Regions from separate parts of the Homo sapiens genome. Here region 2 is linked to region 1. Evidence: fine-mapped expression QTL. Tissue or cell type: whole blood. Region 1 holds a variant in brackets; the other region holds the start of a gene. All regions are shown on one strand. Distances are from middle to middle.

The links. PIP is the estimated chance that this variant, and not a neighbour inherited with it, causes the effect.
Region 2: it holds the start of C6orf163, and the variant in region 1 is fine-mapped to the expression of C6orf163 in whole blood (TOPMed, PIP above 0.99). The same link has a PIP of 0.9 or more in unexposed skin.

What each region holds. Positions count from the first base shown.
Region 1 is chr6:87,361,416-87,369,600 of GRCh38, forward strand. C6orf163 (chromosome 6 open reading frame 163) reads left to right here. Exons shown (of 5, transcript NM_001010868.3): 5 at 3,546-4,048. The coding sequence ends at 3,981. Among named protein-coding and RNA genes, the nearest start is that of C6orf163, 21 kb to the left of the region's middle. The variant C/T (reference allele first, on the strand shown) is at 3,989.
Region 2 is chr6:87,339,869-87,348,053 of GRCh38, forward strand. It overlaps C6orf163 (chromosome 6 open reading frame 163), which reads left to right and starts at 4,945. Exons shown (of 5, transcript NM_001010868.3): 1 at 4,945-5,379. The coding sequence starts at 5,232. SMIM8 (small integral membrane protein 8) reads left to right here. Exons shown (of 4, transcript NM_001042493.3): 4 at 248-2,461. The coding sequence ends at 406.

The DNA.
Region 1 (8,185 bases):
AGATATACATTATTGGATCACTTTTGCCTGACTCAATTCTGGTAGAGCCTTCCAGTTAGCCCATAAATGAAACCTCCCATTTGGGTGAGAGGAAAGTCAGCCCCACCTGGCAGGAAACTCATGCCTGCTTATGTCAGAGGACACAGGGAGCACAGCTTCCTCCTTGGAGATTGGTCCCTGGTCATCACCCTGACAATCTCATCAACAGCCTGAGGATGTTATCAGACATCAGACTAAATCCTTAGAATGTGTGTCGATGCACACTGCCCACTCTATACACAGCATCACTTCTATTAATGGAACCTCCATTCTCCTGTGACCCGGGTTGAAAATCAGCAAGTTGGTTTTGATTCCTCTTTTTCCCACTTCTCCCATATGCTTGCAGTCACAGATTCTGGCAGCTATGACTTTTTAATATTTCCTAGGCTTAACCCATTCTCTCCCTCTTCCCAACCCTCTCTTTTGTCATTAGTTCAGACCCTCATCATTGCACCTCAAGGATATTATGAAATGATACAATTGGTCTCTCTAGCTCACCCCACTAAGATTCAGTTCACTCACTGTTACCTGAATAACAAGTCTAAAATGTTATTTTTACTGTGCTACCCTCCTGACGAAAAATGTATAGTGCCCACTCATGAGCTTGAAGCAGGTAATGATTAAGGGCAGGAACTCCCCAGCGTGCTCAGTTGTGTGACATTGAACAACAACTCACTCTTCTCTAAGCCTCCATTTCTCACCTGTTACAAGGGAATAGTCACAGGTTATAAGTAAAAATAGGTCAGGCACGGTGGCTCACACCTGTAATCCCAGCAATTTGGGAGACCAAGGCGGGTGGATCACTTAACGTTAGGAGTTCAAGACCAGCCTGGCCAACATAGTGAAACCCTGCCTCTACTAAAAATACAAAAATTAGCCATGTGTGGGGGTGCACACTTGTAATCCCAGATACTTGGGAGGCTGAGGTAGAAGGATCACTTGAACCTGGGAGGCGGAGGTTGCAGTGAGCCAAGATGGTGCCACTGCACTCCAGCCTGGACAACAGAGCAAGATTCATCTGTAAATAAGTAAATAAAGTATCAGCTTCAATGGGTTATTGTGAAAATTAAATGAGATATCGTGCATGTAAAATGCTCACCACAGTTCCTGCAATACAGTAAGTACTCAATAATCATTACCCCTGTTATTAATATTGGAAATAGCTTAGTTGGTGGGAAAAGGAAGAAGAGAAATAGTATAGTGGCTACGGAGGCTAAAGAAAGATGTGATTTACTTCAAGACTAGGGAAGTCTGTCAGGTTTGAAAGTCAAGTGGAAAGACTCAGAGAAGATGAGAGAATTGCATCTTGGAGGATGGAATTTAGGAGATAGGGCCAGTGGTAAATCTTGGAAAGCCTGTATTAGACTGGGAGGCAGAGGGGGAGGATTTTTATTAACAGCCATACATTTGAGATCTTAAAACCTCAAATCTTTGAGGTTCTGCTCAAACTATGTTAACTGCAGAAATCCACTGGAAATGTATCACAGTGGCTAAGAGCTTTTGCCCTGGTCTCAGACTGCCTGAGTTGTGTTGCAGATTTTGCCTCTTTAACTTATTAAACAAACTTAGTCCAATTACTTAACCTCCCTGAGCTCAATGTCTTCTTCATAAAAAGAGCACAGTAATGGAACCACACTACAGAATTGTTTTTGAGGATTCATTGAATTAATGTATGCATAGAATGCTCATTAACCTGCTTGGACATGGTAAGAGGTCAACATGGTTGGCTGCTATGAATTTTATATAATACCCTACATTATAGCCAGAAGTATATTAATCATTTAGCAGTGCTTCTGAATATGTGGTCCAGAGACCCTTCAAGGTCCCTGAGACTCTTTAAAGAGGCAGTCCATGACATTAAAACTATTTTCTTTTTTTTTTTCCAAATTTTTTAAAAAATTATTATTATACTTAAAGTTTTAGGGTACATGTGCACAATGTGCAGGTTTGTTACATATGTATACATGTGCCATGCTGGTGTGCTGCACCCATTAACTCGTCATTTAGCATTAGGTATATCTCCTAAAGCTATCCCTCCCCGCTCCCCCCACCCCACAACAGTCCCCAGAGTGTGATGTTCCCCTTCCTGTGTCCATGTGTTCTCATTGTTCAGTTCCTACCTATGAGTGAGAATATGCAGTGTTTGGTTTTTTGTTCTTGCAATAGTTTACTGAGAATGATGATTTGCAATTTCATCCATGTCCCTACAAAGGACATGAACTCATCATTTTTTATGGCTGCATAGTATTCCATGGTGTATATGTGCCACATTTTCTTAATCCAGTCTATCATTGTTGGACATTTGGGTTGGTTCCAAGTCTTTGCTATTGTGAATAGTGCCGCAATAAACATACGTGTGCATGTGTCTTTATAGCAGCATAACACTAAGACTTTATTTGCCTTTTTCACTCTTAGTCTCCTATGAATATAAAATGGTGTTCTCCAGGGGTTTTGTGATGTGTGATATCACAATAAATTGAAACAGTATGAAAATTCAGCTTTTTGCTAATAAGCCAGAGATTAAAGAGTTGTGCAAAAAAAAAATTAGGCTGGGTACAGTGGCTTATACCTGTAATCCCAGCACTTTGGGAGGCCAGGGCGGGTGGATCACTTGAGGTCAGGAGTTTGAGATCAGCTTGGCCAACATGGTAAAATCCCATCTCTACTAAAAAATACAAAAATTAGCTGGGTGTAGTCGTGCACACCTGTAATCCCAGCTACTCTGGAGGCTGAGGCATGTGAATCACTTGAACCTGGGAGCTGGAGGTTGCAGTAAGCCAGGGCCAGGCCATTGCACTCTAGCCTGGGTGACGGCAAGACACTGTCTCAAAAAAAAAGTTAAATTATACCATTCTTCTCATGAAATATTTCATTGTTTGGGAAAATGTTTTTCATAAGAGATTTTTAATATTTTAAAAATGTCTCCCTTTTAGTTTATATAACTGTTAATGTCAATGCCTATAACTCATATAAACAAAAGCTCTTTGGCTTCCTCGATAATTTTGAGACTGTAAAGAGCTCCCGAGACCAAAAAGCTTGAGGTGACTGTCATAGAGTATTGCTCAGATAAAATCAAGATTAAAGCTAAATCTATCCTGTGAGTATAAGGATTTTTCATCTCTGGCTAAAGGTCAGCAGCTGGATTAATATAAAGAAATACTTTCTCTACAGAGTTTGGAACTCTGACCCTTATCTCCTCATTTTTAAGCACAATGCATGTATATTTTCCTGAAAAAGGTGATCTCAGGTTCCTAAAGTTGCCGTTAGAAGTTAGACTAGTGGCCTCACCCTAGCCCACAGCAGGGAAGTACATAGGAAGCCTCCCTGCTCTGAAAATGTGTTTTGTTTGATAACAGCTAATGCAATCCAAAAGCTCATCCGTATCAGCCTGTCTCAGGCTGGTGGCTCATCTCAACAATTGCTCATTCATCTGCGTTTAAAGATGAAATTATTTTGTTTTTAGTGGCCAATCCATCTAAATTATAAATCCATATTATCTTTTGTAGCAAAGCCGTGGAGGAAATTGTGAATACTGGTGTCACAGTTATTAAGGATGAGAAGACCAGTGTGGCCCGACTGATGAGGGAAAAAGAACATGAAATGAGCATCCTCTATGGCATAGCTCAGAGGCAGAGGCAAGAAGAGGTACAGGAAGTGCTTCAAGAAGCAGAGAAAACACATCAGGCCACTCTTGGCAATATGATGGATAAACTGGCTAACACCCAGGGGGAGCTGCTGTCTATAGCAAAACAACTGGGAATCATGACAAATTGGAAAGATTTCCTAGAGGAGGAATTACAGGAAACCAGGATGGCATTTCAAAAATACATCAATTATACCTTTCCTAAGCTTTCACCAGGACATGCAGATTTTATTCTGCCAGAAAGAAAGAAAACACCTTCTAATCTTGTTATTAAGGAGAACAAAACAACTCTTGATTAGAAGTCTT[C/T]AGTTGAAATTCCACTACAAAAGACATCATTCCAGACTAAATAAATTTACTCAAAAACCATGTATTGATTCCCCAGCCTTGTGCAGGGTACTATTGGGCTATAAGAATTTTCATGGAAAACCAAAATATTAAAAAGCACATTCCAGATTATATTGAGCCAAGTCTGAGAAGAAAAAATAGTGAGAGGTAGCAAACTGATTAAGAGGGGAAAGGTTTCTTGGATGAAGCCTAAACACACTTCTGTATCTGTCTTTATTCATTTCTACATCAGACATATAATTAATTATTTCAGCATTTATTGCCATAGAAAACAAGTAAAGGAAAGTGTTCTTAGGTTGTTCCTGTTTTGGGCAGGTGTGCTAAGTTCCAGTAGACAGTTTATCATTTGGTGAATGCAGTAGCATTGTGAATTTAAAAAAGCAATTTCTCTCAAATTCAGTAGGATAAAATTTAAATTCTGGGACTCCCATATAAAGTAATTCAGGAAGGACTTGCTACCCACACAACAAGCAGGTTCAGTCACTTGGTGGGTGTCAACTCAATGACCACAACCAAAGAAGATTTAGCAAGGGGATTTTATTACTTATAAGGAGTAAGGAGAACACCAGGGATAGTCCCCAAAGCAGTGTCTGCCTGAGCTGGGGGCTGGGTCAGGTTTTATAAACATAGGGTAATGAGGCATGATCTGACTGGGTCTTGCAATGAGGGGATGTCAGGAGGCATGATCTAACTGGATCCTGCCATGGGGTGATGCCAAAGCTCAATCCAGTTGGATTCTGGATCCTGCCATGCAGTGTCCACTTCTTAATTCAGTTCCCACTCCTGAGTCAGAGCAATCAGGTTCCCTCTGTGGTTGAACACTTGGTCCATCTGGGCATGCTCAGATTACATGACCTGAGGGTCCATGGCAACTGAAAAACACTGTACTACTTTGTTACGTGAAAGTTGGGCCACATGGGTCTGGTATGGCTACAGACTCATCTATATTTGCCAGTTGTAAAAGAAAAAAAGATGGGAGATATTTCTCAAATCCACCTCTCTGAGAACTCAGAGGGTAGGGTTTTTAAAGGATAATTTGACAGGCAGGGGGCTGGGGAATGGGTGCTACTGATTGGTTGGAGATGAAATCACAGGAGTGTTGGAACTGTCTTCGCATGCCGAGTCAGCTTCTGGGTGGGAGTTACAGGACCAGTTGATTTATTTCCTTGGTATGAGTCATGGGTCCAAGTGGTGTCAGTTCATCAGGATGCAAACATCTGAAAAATATCTCAAAGAACAATCTTAGGTTTTACAATAGTGATGTTATCTGTAGGAACAATTGGGAAAGTTACAACTCTTGTGACCTCTGGCGACATGACTCCTGAGTAGTAAGCAAGCTAGGGAACATGGCTGGTTATCACTGAACTATGCATAGGTCTTAGCAGAATTCAAGCTCCTCCCATAATTCTAACCTTTTGGCCTTTCATTCATTTTACAAAGGTGGTTTTAGTCCCTGAACTAGGAGGAGGGTAGTTTTGGGAAGGGGCTGTTATCTTCTTCGCTTTAATGTTAAACAATAAATTCCTCCCATGGTTAGCTTGGCCTGCACTCAGGAATGAGCAAGGGCAATAAGCTTGTGAGGTTAGAAGCAAGATGGAGTCTGCTATGTTAGATTTCTCTCACTGTCATAAGTTTTGCAAAAGTGGTTTCAGAACCCTAATCCTTCCAGCAAACATGGGCAGGGAGCCAAGAATGATGGGGAGCAGAACTGGACGCCCTTCTCTGAACATACTGGATGTACTCTCCTGATGTCAAGCCCCACGGGTGAATGTGTGGAGGGGTACACTCTGTAGCTCCCTCCCACCATCCTAATGTCAGGAAGGACAGATTTGCCCTCAGGGTTCTGGAGAGAGACTAATTGCCTGTGGCAAGATGAGAATAGCAAAGTCAAGTGAAAATTGAAAGTGAGTTATGTTTCTGAATTCTCATTGGGACCCTCACGCCTGGTTTTCTACTGAAACTTGACTGAGACAGAGATTAAGTCAGACTATTTTTTAAAAGATTCCCTGAGTGAACCAATTTTTAGCATAATTTGAGAAGAGAACAGTAACTCTCCGGATACTGTTTCCTTTGAGTACAATACCTAGAGAGGCCTTTATAGATCTTAGATACTATGCCCCATATAAATTATTAAAGTTGTAAGCATTTTAGAGAGTTACTTTAAAGAGAACTTAAAGAAGTCCATTTTTCTTAGTTGTCTTAGATGCTACCTGTACAGTAAGAGTGCATGCAGTTCACATGGTTTCTGGTAATTAGGAAGCTGTGTTAACTCCTGGAGGCCAACTGGGAAGGCCTCTAAGACTGAGGACTCTAAGAAATCATTGCAGTTTAATTTTCTGGAATTTATGCTACCAAGACATGAACTTTTTGGAGTAAAGGAACTTGCGCACTACGAAACAGATGTATAGCATCACTCGGACAGATGGAGAAGCCTCCATCCTAGTCACAAAGCACAAGGAGTTGGGCAGTTTAGTAATCACTGGACTTTTATGTTACCAAGAAGTCACTCTGATGGTTTCTTTCTCCAACTCTGATTTCATCTGATTTATTTAAAGCTTGTGTGTTTTAGGCCAGCCATGGTGGCTCACGCCTGTAATCCCAGTGCTTTAGGAGGCTGAGGTGGGCAGATCGCTTGAGCCCAGGAGTTCAAGACTAGCCTGGGCAACATGGTGAAACCCCGTCTTTACAAAAAGTACAAAAACTAGCTGAGTGTGGTGGTGCGCACCTGTAGTTCCAGCTACTCAAGAGGCTGAGGTGGGAAGATTGATTGAGCCTGGGAGGTTGAGGCTGCGGTGAGCCATGATCCTGCCACTGCACTCCAGCTTGGACAACTGTATTAGTCTGTTTTCACACTGCTGATAAAGACATACCAAAGAGTGGGTAATTTATAAAGAAAAAGAGGTTTCATGTACTCACAGTTCCACGTGGCTGGGGAGGCCTTACAATCATAGCGGAAGGCAAAAGGCACATCTTATATGGCAGCAGATAAGAGAGAATTGGGAACCAAGTAAAAGGGGTTTCCCTTATAAAACGATCAGATCTCGTGAGACTTATTCACTACCACGAGAACAGTATAGGGGAAACCGCCCCCATGGTTCAATTATCTCCCACCAAGTTCCTCCCACAATATGTGGGAATTATGGGAGCTACAATTCAAGATGAGACTTGGGTGGGGACACAGCCAAACCATATCATTCTGCCCCTGGCCCCTCCCAAATCTCATGTCCTCACATTTCAAAACCAATCATGCCTTCCCAACAGTCCCCCAAAGTCTTATTTCAGCATTAACTCAAAAGTCCACAGTCCAAAGTCTCATCTGAGACAAGGCAAGTCCGTTCTGCCTATGAGCCCATAAAATCAGAAGCAAGTTAGTTAATTCCTAGATACAGTGGGGGTACAGGCATTGGGTAAATACAGCCATTCCAAATGGGAGAAATTGGCCAAAATAAAGGGGCCTTAGGCTCCATGCAAGTCCATAATCCAGCAGGGCAGTCAAATCTTAAAGCTCCAAAATCATCTTTGACTCCATGTCTCACATCCAGGTCACACTGATATAAGAGGTGAGCTCCCATGGCCTTCGGCAGTTCAGCCCCTGTGGCTTTGCAGGGTATAGCCCCCCTCCTGGCTGCTTTCATAGGCTGATGTTGAGTGTCTGCAGCTTTTCCAGGTTCACAGTGCAAGCTGTCTGTGGATTTACCATTCTGGGGTCTGGAGGATGTGGCCCTCTTCTCACAGCTCCACTGGGCAGTGCCCCAGTGGGGACTCTGTGTATGGGGGCTTCAACTCCACATTTCCCTTCTGCACTGCCCTAGCAGAGGTTCTCCATGAGGGCCCTGCCCCTGCAGCAAACTTCTGCCTGGACATCCAGGCGTTTCCATACATCCTCTGAAATCTAGGTGAAGGTTCCCAAACCTCAATTCTTGATTTCTGTGCACCTGCAGACTCAACACCATGTGAAAGCTGCCAGGGCTTGGGGCTTGCATCCTCTGAAGCCATGCCCTAAGGTATACCTTGGCCCCTTTTAGCCATGGCTGGAGTGGCTGGGAAGCAGGGCACCAAGGCCCTAGGCTGCACAAAGCAGGGGGATCCCTGGGCCCAGACCACAAAACCATTTATTCCTCCTAGAACTCCGGGCCTGTGATGGGAGGGGCTCCACAA
Region 2 (8,185 bases), 22 kb before region 1:
GATGTCCAGGGTGTAGATGGGAGAAAGCCTGGAGAGGAGAAGCAAGAGTCTTCTATAATCTCTAGATAATCAGTAGCTTAGCTAATTGAATAAAGAACTGAATAAATGATTTTAATTGAAATATTGCCATGGTAATGCTAGTGTTGTAATAAAGATGTGGCATGTCAGGAGGAAAGTGCAACCGATATTTGGGTCTCCTCAAATTGTTAGTCTTACTAAAGCTTTATAATTTTTTTTTCTTTGACAGAACAAACCTGTAATGGCTTTCGGATTGGTAACTCTTTCACTTTGCGTGGCATATATTGGTTATCTACATGCAATACAAGAGAATAAAAAGGACCTCTATGAAGCTATTGATAGTGAGGGGCACAGTTATATGAGGCGGAAAACATCCAAATGGGATTAGTAGTGCTGGTTAGTGCAGATGGACCTTTATTAAAGGTTCTGAAATCTTCAAATGAAAGACCTTGTGAGTGTACAGTATCATGTTTCTTGTTCTAGAACATGCTAATGAAGAGAGAAGATAGCAGTTGCAACCAGACAACTGTCGTAAATTTTGTCCTTTCACAGCTGCAGCCATTATCTCATTCTTTTTCCACAGAGTGAGCGTCATAATATTTTTCTTTCCTTACCTCTTATAAAAGTGCCATGAGAATGGAAGTTGTTTTTGTTAATTATTAAATTCTGTATAATAAAAGTACCCATGCTGTTAAATTTGCATGATGTTTTAAATATTTTAAGATGAATTATGCCGGTGCAGCTGTCGTGAAAGTTTACTTGTGTTTTGCTACTTGCAAAGGAAATGTTCATGTTCTCCCTGGCATAGAACCTATATTTTTAAAGAAAGATAAATAGAAATTTTAAGGCCTGAAGTCAATATTAAAAATATGAGATATGAGAAACTGAGTTGGCTCTGACAAGTAGTTTTTATAGTGTCACAAATGGTTCATATATTTCAGTTTCCATTTTAGCTATTTTTGGGACAGAATTTTATTTTAATGGAAAAGATCCTTCCACTCAGCTACTAAAATAAGGATTAAGAATATCCCAGAGTAATTGGAGTTTTTCTTTAAAAAAAAAAAAAAAGTATGTTTTACTGAGGTATGATGATTTTGACTACAACTAAATGTTATCTATTTTAGTGTTTATGTTAATTAATGTTAATTAATTTTGTTTATGTTAATTTGTGTTAATTAATGTTACTGTAATGTTATAAACATAAGACCAAGTGTTCTTATAGTTATTTAAAAACTACAACTACTCAATGGATAAGGAATAGATAAGGTCTCCTTATTGTACCTTTTTTTTCTTTTGAAGTTTATATGCCAGCAGGCCTTTTTGTTTTTTTCCTTTTCAGAATGTTTCTTATTCTCTGAAGCATCAGCATTTTGAAGTGTCTTTTATGGAAGTGGGGACAGAAATGGGGGTAAAAATGAGTGTAAACAAAGCCTAGCCCTACGGTCAGTACCCACTGGAGGTGAGAAGCAGAATGGCCTTGGTTGTCCTGGCACCTGGCCCAGGGGCCTAGGACAGAGGTCAAGGCTAGGCCCCTGTGTCTGGCCAGATTCTGCCTTATAGAATTCAAATCTTTCTTACAAGGGTTCTGGACCCGTTTCATTTCTAGATATATACCTAATTCTCCAAATCATTGTCATTGGGCCTCAGTAGTAAATCTTACCTCTGAAGTCTTGCTTCAGTCGCTATTAATATTACCAAGTAATAATAACAGCACAGGCAGAGTTTATCATAATGTTATTTTTAATTTGTCATACTTTATTATGGTTTTGTAAGGTACATGAAAATGTAATTATGTGTGATTTGTAGGTATTAAAGAACTTAGCTAATTGAATTTACATGAAACTAAATAAAATCTTTACTACTGAGCCCCAAATATGTATTTGCTATGCCTGTCTGTATAATGTACTTCATATAGTTTAAAATGCACTTCAGTGATACAAAATCCCTTTTAAAGACTCTTTTGTTTTTGTTTTCCCTGTGTATTTTGGCTATCACAAAACTAGGGTTCTTCTGTTTTTAACTTATGCATTTAATGACACATTGCCATCTTTTAGAATTTTTTACTATTCAACAGAATAAGCTGATGTTTGGTGGCAGAGGAGTTATTAGTTGCGTGAACTGTCAAGAGATTGCAGTGCAGGAGGGCAACAGAAACTGTACAAGGTGCAGACTTGAGTCATGTAAGATCTATGTGAATGAACCAAAGTAACTAGAGTCAGTCAAGCACAAAGCTGTGAAAAGTAGTGTGTGGAAAGAATCATACTGAATTTTAGGAACAAGTACCTGACTATGATACTTTTTACAGAGTGACTACAAGTTGTAGGACAGTCTTTGTGTGTGCTGAGTGTCAACAGCTGCCTGCCTATGTGTTGATGTTTTCATCCTTTCTTTGTTGAATGAGGGTATAACCATCAAAAATAAAATACCTTTCAAATAGTCCAAAGATTCTGAACATTGAACTTCACCTGATCCAATCCTGTCAGTTTATGGTTAAGACAATAGGCTGAGAATGGCTAAGAGATTTACCAAAGATCAGGGAGATTCTCAGTCAGGAGTAGAACCTGTATCTTCTTGCTCTAAAGTCTAGGGATCTTTTCACCATACTATACCACCTTCTATGTGTAAATGTGCACATAATAATAAAGCAGCCACATTAGCCCTTAAAAATAAGAAGTTTAGATCTTAAGTAGAGAAACACTCCTGTACTTTAAAACAGAATTATGTAAAGGACTGTTAACTGCCAGCTCCCTCACAAGACCATCAGAACAACCTGATGATCAAACAAAACTAAGCTTATTAAATCTACTGCACTAAAGGGAAATACCACTTTTACAAAGTTAGCTGTATTTAAGAATGGGATGGTCAGGGGAAGATATTAAAGTCTTTTGGAAGTCTGAGTTCAAGTGATTAAAGAAGGGTCTTTCAATGCAGGAATCTGGTTGAGAATGGGCAAGGTACCTGACAGAACAGATTAGATCTTGAAGCAAGTCTTGATTAGTAAACTATTGTTCAATAAATGTTAAGTGAACTCTTTGCCCAGGGGAGTAGTCTAATCTTCTGATGGAAGAGCTGTTTGCCTAGATCAGCAAGCTGTCCAATTGATAAATTGTTTTTCAAGGATTTCCTAAGGCAAACACTGAAAGTATTTATTGGTTTTACAGCCTTATCTTCCATAGGAGGCCCAACTCTTCCAATTTGCCAGACACTAAGGAAGTTCAGGACTTTCAGTTTTAAAACAGGGACAGTCCCAGGCAAATCAAGGCCAGTTAGTTATCCTTCCATCTGGGCAAGAATTTCTAGTAACAGATAGGAAAGTTATTGGCACAAGTAGCCTCAGTTCTCAATCCAGATAATTAACTGTGTGGATGCAGTAATCCTCATTCTTCATACTAATTCATCTCTTTGTTTTTAATTCCTCTCCAAGTCCCAGTTAACCCTTTTCTTGAAGTCAAATCTGGCACAATTTGATAGTTACTTAAGGTCTTCAGCCAGTTATCAGGCCGTATGTGTTAATATAAATTATAGAGTAACTTGTGGTACACTTAGCTCAGGGCCCTATGGGAGTCCTGTTGTTGAAATTAATTTCACTGATGGCACTCACTTATTATAAAATAGTCCTGCCAAGTAGATGCAGCATATGACATTGTCAGGCAATTTTATAAATTCAGTTACTTGGTACAATCAGTTGCACAGATTTTTGCGATAGGTGGAATTTCTATGGCTGTTTATCTAAAATTATAGGAACAAATTAGTTAACCATGTGATTTTTAAAACCAGGCTTAGTAATTTTGAATGCTGCCTTAATGAAAGTAATTTCTTCTTCAAGATACCATGATATTTCCCAGTTTTATTACCATGGCACCAACACATCATGTTTATTAAAAACCTAAAAGAAATTAAGCTACCTCCATTGCTGGCCTTAAAAGAAATTAATTCTTTAAAAACTAATTTAAAACAAAGTGTGGTAGGCTGACTAATGCTCTCCTTCCCTGCAAAAATGTCCAGATCCTAATCTCTGGAACCTGTAAATATGGGACTTTACGGATATGGGTAAGTTTAGGATTTTGAGATGGGGAGATTATCCTGGATTATCTAGATGGGGCTGGTATAATCACCAAGGTCTTTAAAGCACGGCAGAAGATCAGAGGAAGAGACAATGTCACTATGGAAGCACTGGGGGAAAAGGCTATATGATGCAAGGCCATGACCCCAAGGAATATGGATGGCCTTTAGAAGCTGGAAAAGGCAAGCAAACACATTCTCCTCTGAAGCCTGCAGAAGGAACCAGCCCTTCTAACAACTTGATTTTAGCCCCTAAGACTCATTTTAGACTTCTGATCTCCAGAAATGCAAGAGGATAAATTTGTGTTACATTTAAACTATGAAGTTTGTGTAGTTTGTCACAGTGGTGCTATGGTTTGAATATTTGTCCCCTGCAAAACTCATGTTGAACTTTAATCCCCAACGTGGTAGTATTGAGAAGTGGGGCCTTTAAGGGGTGAGTGAATTCATTCATGGGTTAAGGGATTGATGGATTATCATGGGAGGAGAACTGGTGGTTTTATAAGAAGAGGAAGAGAGGCCTGAGCTAGCATGTGAGCTCAGCCCCTGGCCATGTCATACCCTATACCACCTCAGGAATCTTCAGTGAGTTCCCACCACCAAGAAGATTCTTACCTGATGCAACTCCTCCACCTTGGACTTCTCAGCCTCCATAAACTGTAAGAAATAATTTCATTTTCTTTATAAGCTATCCAGTTTCAGGTATTCTATTATAAGCAACAGAAAACAGAGTAAGACAGCAGCAATAGGAAACTAATATAGAAAGTATCAGGAAAATGAATGGCTGTATCATGCTCCCTTTTGTCATTATTTGAAGTTGCTTTTATGAGCAAAGCTTGTCTTACCTAGCAACAGTTGCCAAGTAAGTTAACAACTTAATGCTAGAGTCTGGGAAGGAGCAACTACTTAAATCTTCCCAAATCTGGTGCCCATACCTTCTATGGCAGGGGCTTTTAGCACCATTCTTTAACGTTAGACACATAACCACAGCCTAATCACTTGAACCATTTAATCCTTACCAGCCTCTAGCATTATCCTAAAACCCTGAACCTCTTCCAGCTTTCTTAAACTTTCAGCTTTTCTTGAAACGACTTTTTCTGATTCTAAGATTATTTTAACTGTAAGTAGGAGAAGACATCTGAAATTTAACTATGATCAGAAATTCAGATTACAAAAACTTTGTTTGCTGTGCTGTTTGTAATAAAATAATTCCACCAGCCCCTTTTGGAAAAACCTTCAAACGGATCCATGAATACAAGCCACTTAAGACACGCTTTTACACTCACAAAGACATACTAGGTAAGTGACTTTATCGTTTTCCTTTGTTCTAATGCTTCATAGCCTTATGTGTCATTCTTTCTGTTACATAGACTTTTATCAGCTTTTTTCTCTTCAGAGTTGCTTGTCCCTACAGGGATATTTGAGGAGAATATGGGTTGGAATACAGCTTCTCCACTTACAGTTGTATGTATTGGGCAGGGTATTTAGCCTCTCAATCTGTTTCCTTATGTGGAAATAAATATACTAATACCTATCTTACAGGTTGTTATGAGACTTTAATGAAGTATTTGTATCTATTATAAATCCTGGCACATAATAGTAAATGTGAGTTCATTTTGCCCTTGGCCATACTTGAGCACCTTTCAGTATGTGTAGGAGAGGAAATATTATCTCTAAATAACACCCTAATTGGATGGGCACAGTGGCTCACACCTGTAATCCCAGCACTTTGGGTGGTCGAGGTGGGCAGATCACTTGAGGCCAAGAGTTCAAGACCAGCCTGGCCAACATGGCGAAACCCCGTCTCTACTAAAAAAATTTAAGCAGGCATGGTGGCATGCGCCTGTAATCCCAGCTACTCGGGAGGCTGAGGTAAGAAAATTGCTTGAACCCAGGAGGTGGAGGTTGCAGTGAGCTGAGATCGTGCTACTGCACTCTAGCCTGGGTGACAGAGCGAGACTCTGCCTCAAAAAAAAAAAAAAAAAAAAAAAATTTTAAAGTACCCTAATAAATGGGTAAAAGAAACTATATAACCTTTAAATAGTAGCTGGTAGCATAAAAGTAGATACATATAGATAACATGAGGACGTTTACTGTACATACGTATGTATATATAATAAGCAAATCAAATTGTACTATAGGTTTCCATCTCTCTTTTATCCCCGTAAGAGTTTTCAGTCTGACCTTGAGCCTTGTAGGTATTTTCCTAAGAACTCTCACAATACTTCTCTGATCCTCTCTTCCTTTAAAATGGTAAACTAAGGGTGATTTCATTTCACTCCTGATATTTGAAAATATAAGAAGCTGGAGAGCAGAGGTGTTTGGAAAAAAAAACTAAAATGTAGGGGGAGATCAAATTGGAATCATCTTCTAAAAACATCAATTCCAAAATTGTTTCTTAGCATTTAGTAAGTGCTTAGTATGAATGATTCATTATGATCTCTAAAGTGACTTTTCATACCCAGGACAGTGTATCTCCATTCTTAGATATACCTTAATGATTGATTCCTTATGCCTTATGGAATATCTAACCCAAACCTTAAGTGGATAAGTTAAATCTATTGTTAGAAATTAATCTTTTCTATTCAGTGACCTTTGTCATTGAACTGTTTTAAGTTAAAAAAGAAAGAAAGTTGAAATTGTCTGTTCTTTATAAGCATTTTGAAATGTCCGTAGAAGAGCTAGTGAGTATTTCATAGGACGATAGTTCTCAATCCTGGCAGTGCACTATATAGAACTTTGAAAAAAAATATTAATACAGATATCCAAACACAGACCCACTGGATTTAATACTAATCTAACACAGAGCCACTAAATTAGGACCTCTACGGTCAGGACTAAGCATGTGTATTTTTTCCTTCACGTTTAAATAACCTTTTTTATTTCAAGATAGTTTAAGACTCACAAGTTGCAAAATAGATCAGAGTTCCCCTGTACCCTTCATCCAGCTTCCATTGATATCTTACATAATCCTGGCACTTTGTCAAAGCTGGAACACTGGCATTGAAACAATACTATTAACTCAGGTACAGACCTTATGTACACTTTTTTCCCCCGGCATAGAGTTTTATGAAATTTATCATGTGTGTATATTAATGTGCCATCACCACAATCACAACATGGAGCTGTTCCATCACCACAAAGGAACTCCCTCGTGTTACCCCTTAGCTGTCACTCTCTTCTCCCCAAACTTGAACCCCTGACAACCACTAATCTGTTCTCTATCACTATAATTTTATCACTGAGAATGCTATCTAAAGAATCATAGATTATGTAACCCATTGAGATTGGCTTTCTTCACTCAGCACAATGCCCTTGAGATTCATCCAAGTTGTTTATCAATAGTTTGTTCCTTTTACAGTATGTGCATTTTTAAAAAAAGCTTTGCAGGGATCCTGTTGTACAATCAGGGTTGAGAACAACTAATAAAACCAATGGGATTTAAACATAAAAGAGGATAGTGATAGCCTACACTTGTATCACATTTTTATGAAGTTCAATACGTTGATGGTCCATGCTTAGTCACATTTTGTCCTAGAAAATCTTTTCTAATTATTTCTACACAATGTTGGGCTTTTGCAGTATGTGTCCATCTCCACCGTAATATATGCTGCCCTGTGTTTTTAAGATTCGCTGATGAACTAGTAGGAGACTCTGTGCCGCCAAACATATACTTTTAATTGCTAGTGACAGAAACATAACTCAGAATAGACTGCATGAAATGGAATTTCTTGACTCTTTTAACAGAGAAACCCAAGGGAAATCTGGCATCAAGGCTTTCAATCTGTCCATGCTTACCCTTTTAGTGAGTTGGCTTAATGGTTTACTGCTGCAGCTAGACTTACTCCGGCAGCTGGGAAAGGAGGAATGTGGATCCAGATAGCTCTAAGAATCTATTACCTTCAGCTTAGAAATCCCAGAGGAAGACCAGGCATGGTGGCTCACGCCTGTAATCCTAGCACTTTGGGAGGCCGAAGTGGGCAGATCACTTGAGGTCAAGAGTTCGAGACCAGCCTGACCAACATGGTGAAAGCCCGTTTCTACTAAAAATACAAAAATTAGTCAGGCATGGTGGTGGGCGCCTGTAATTCCAGCTACTCGGGAG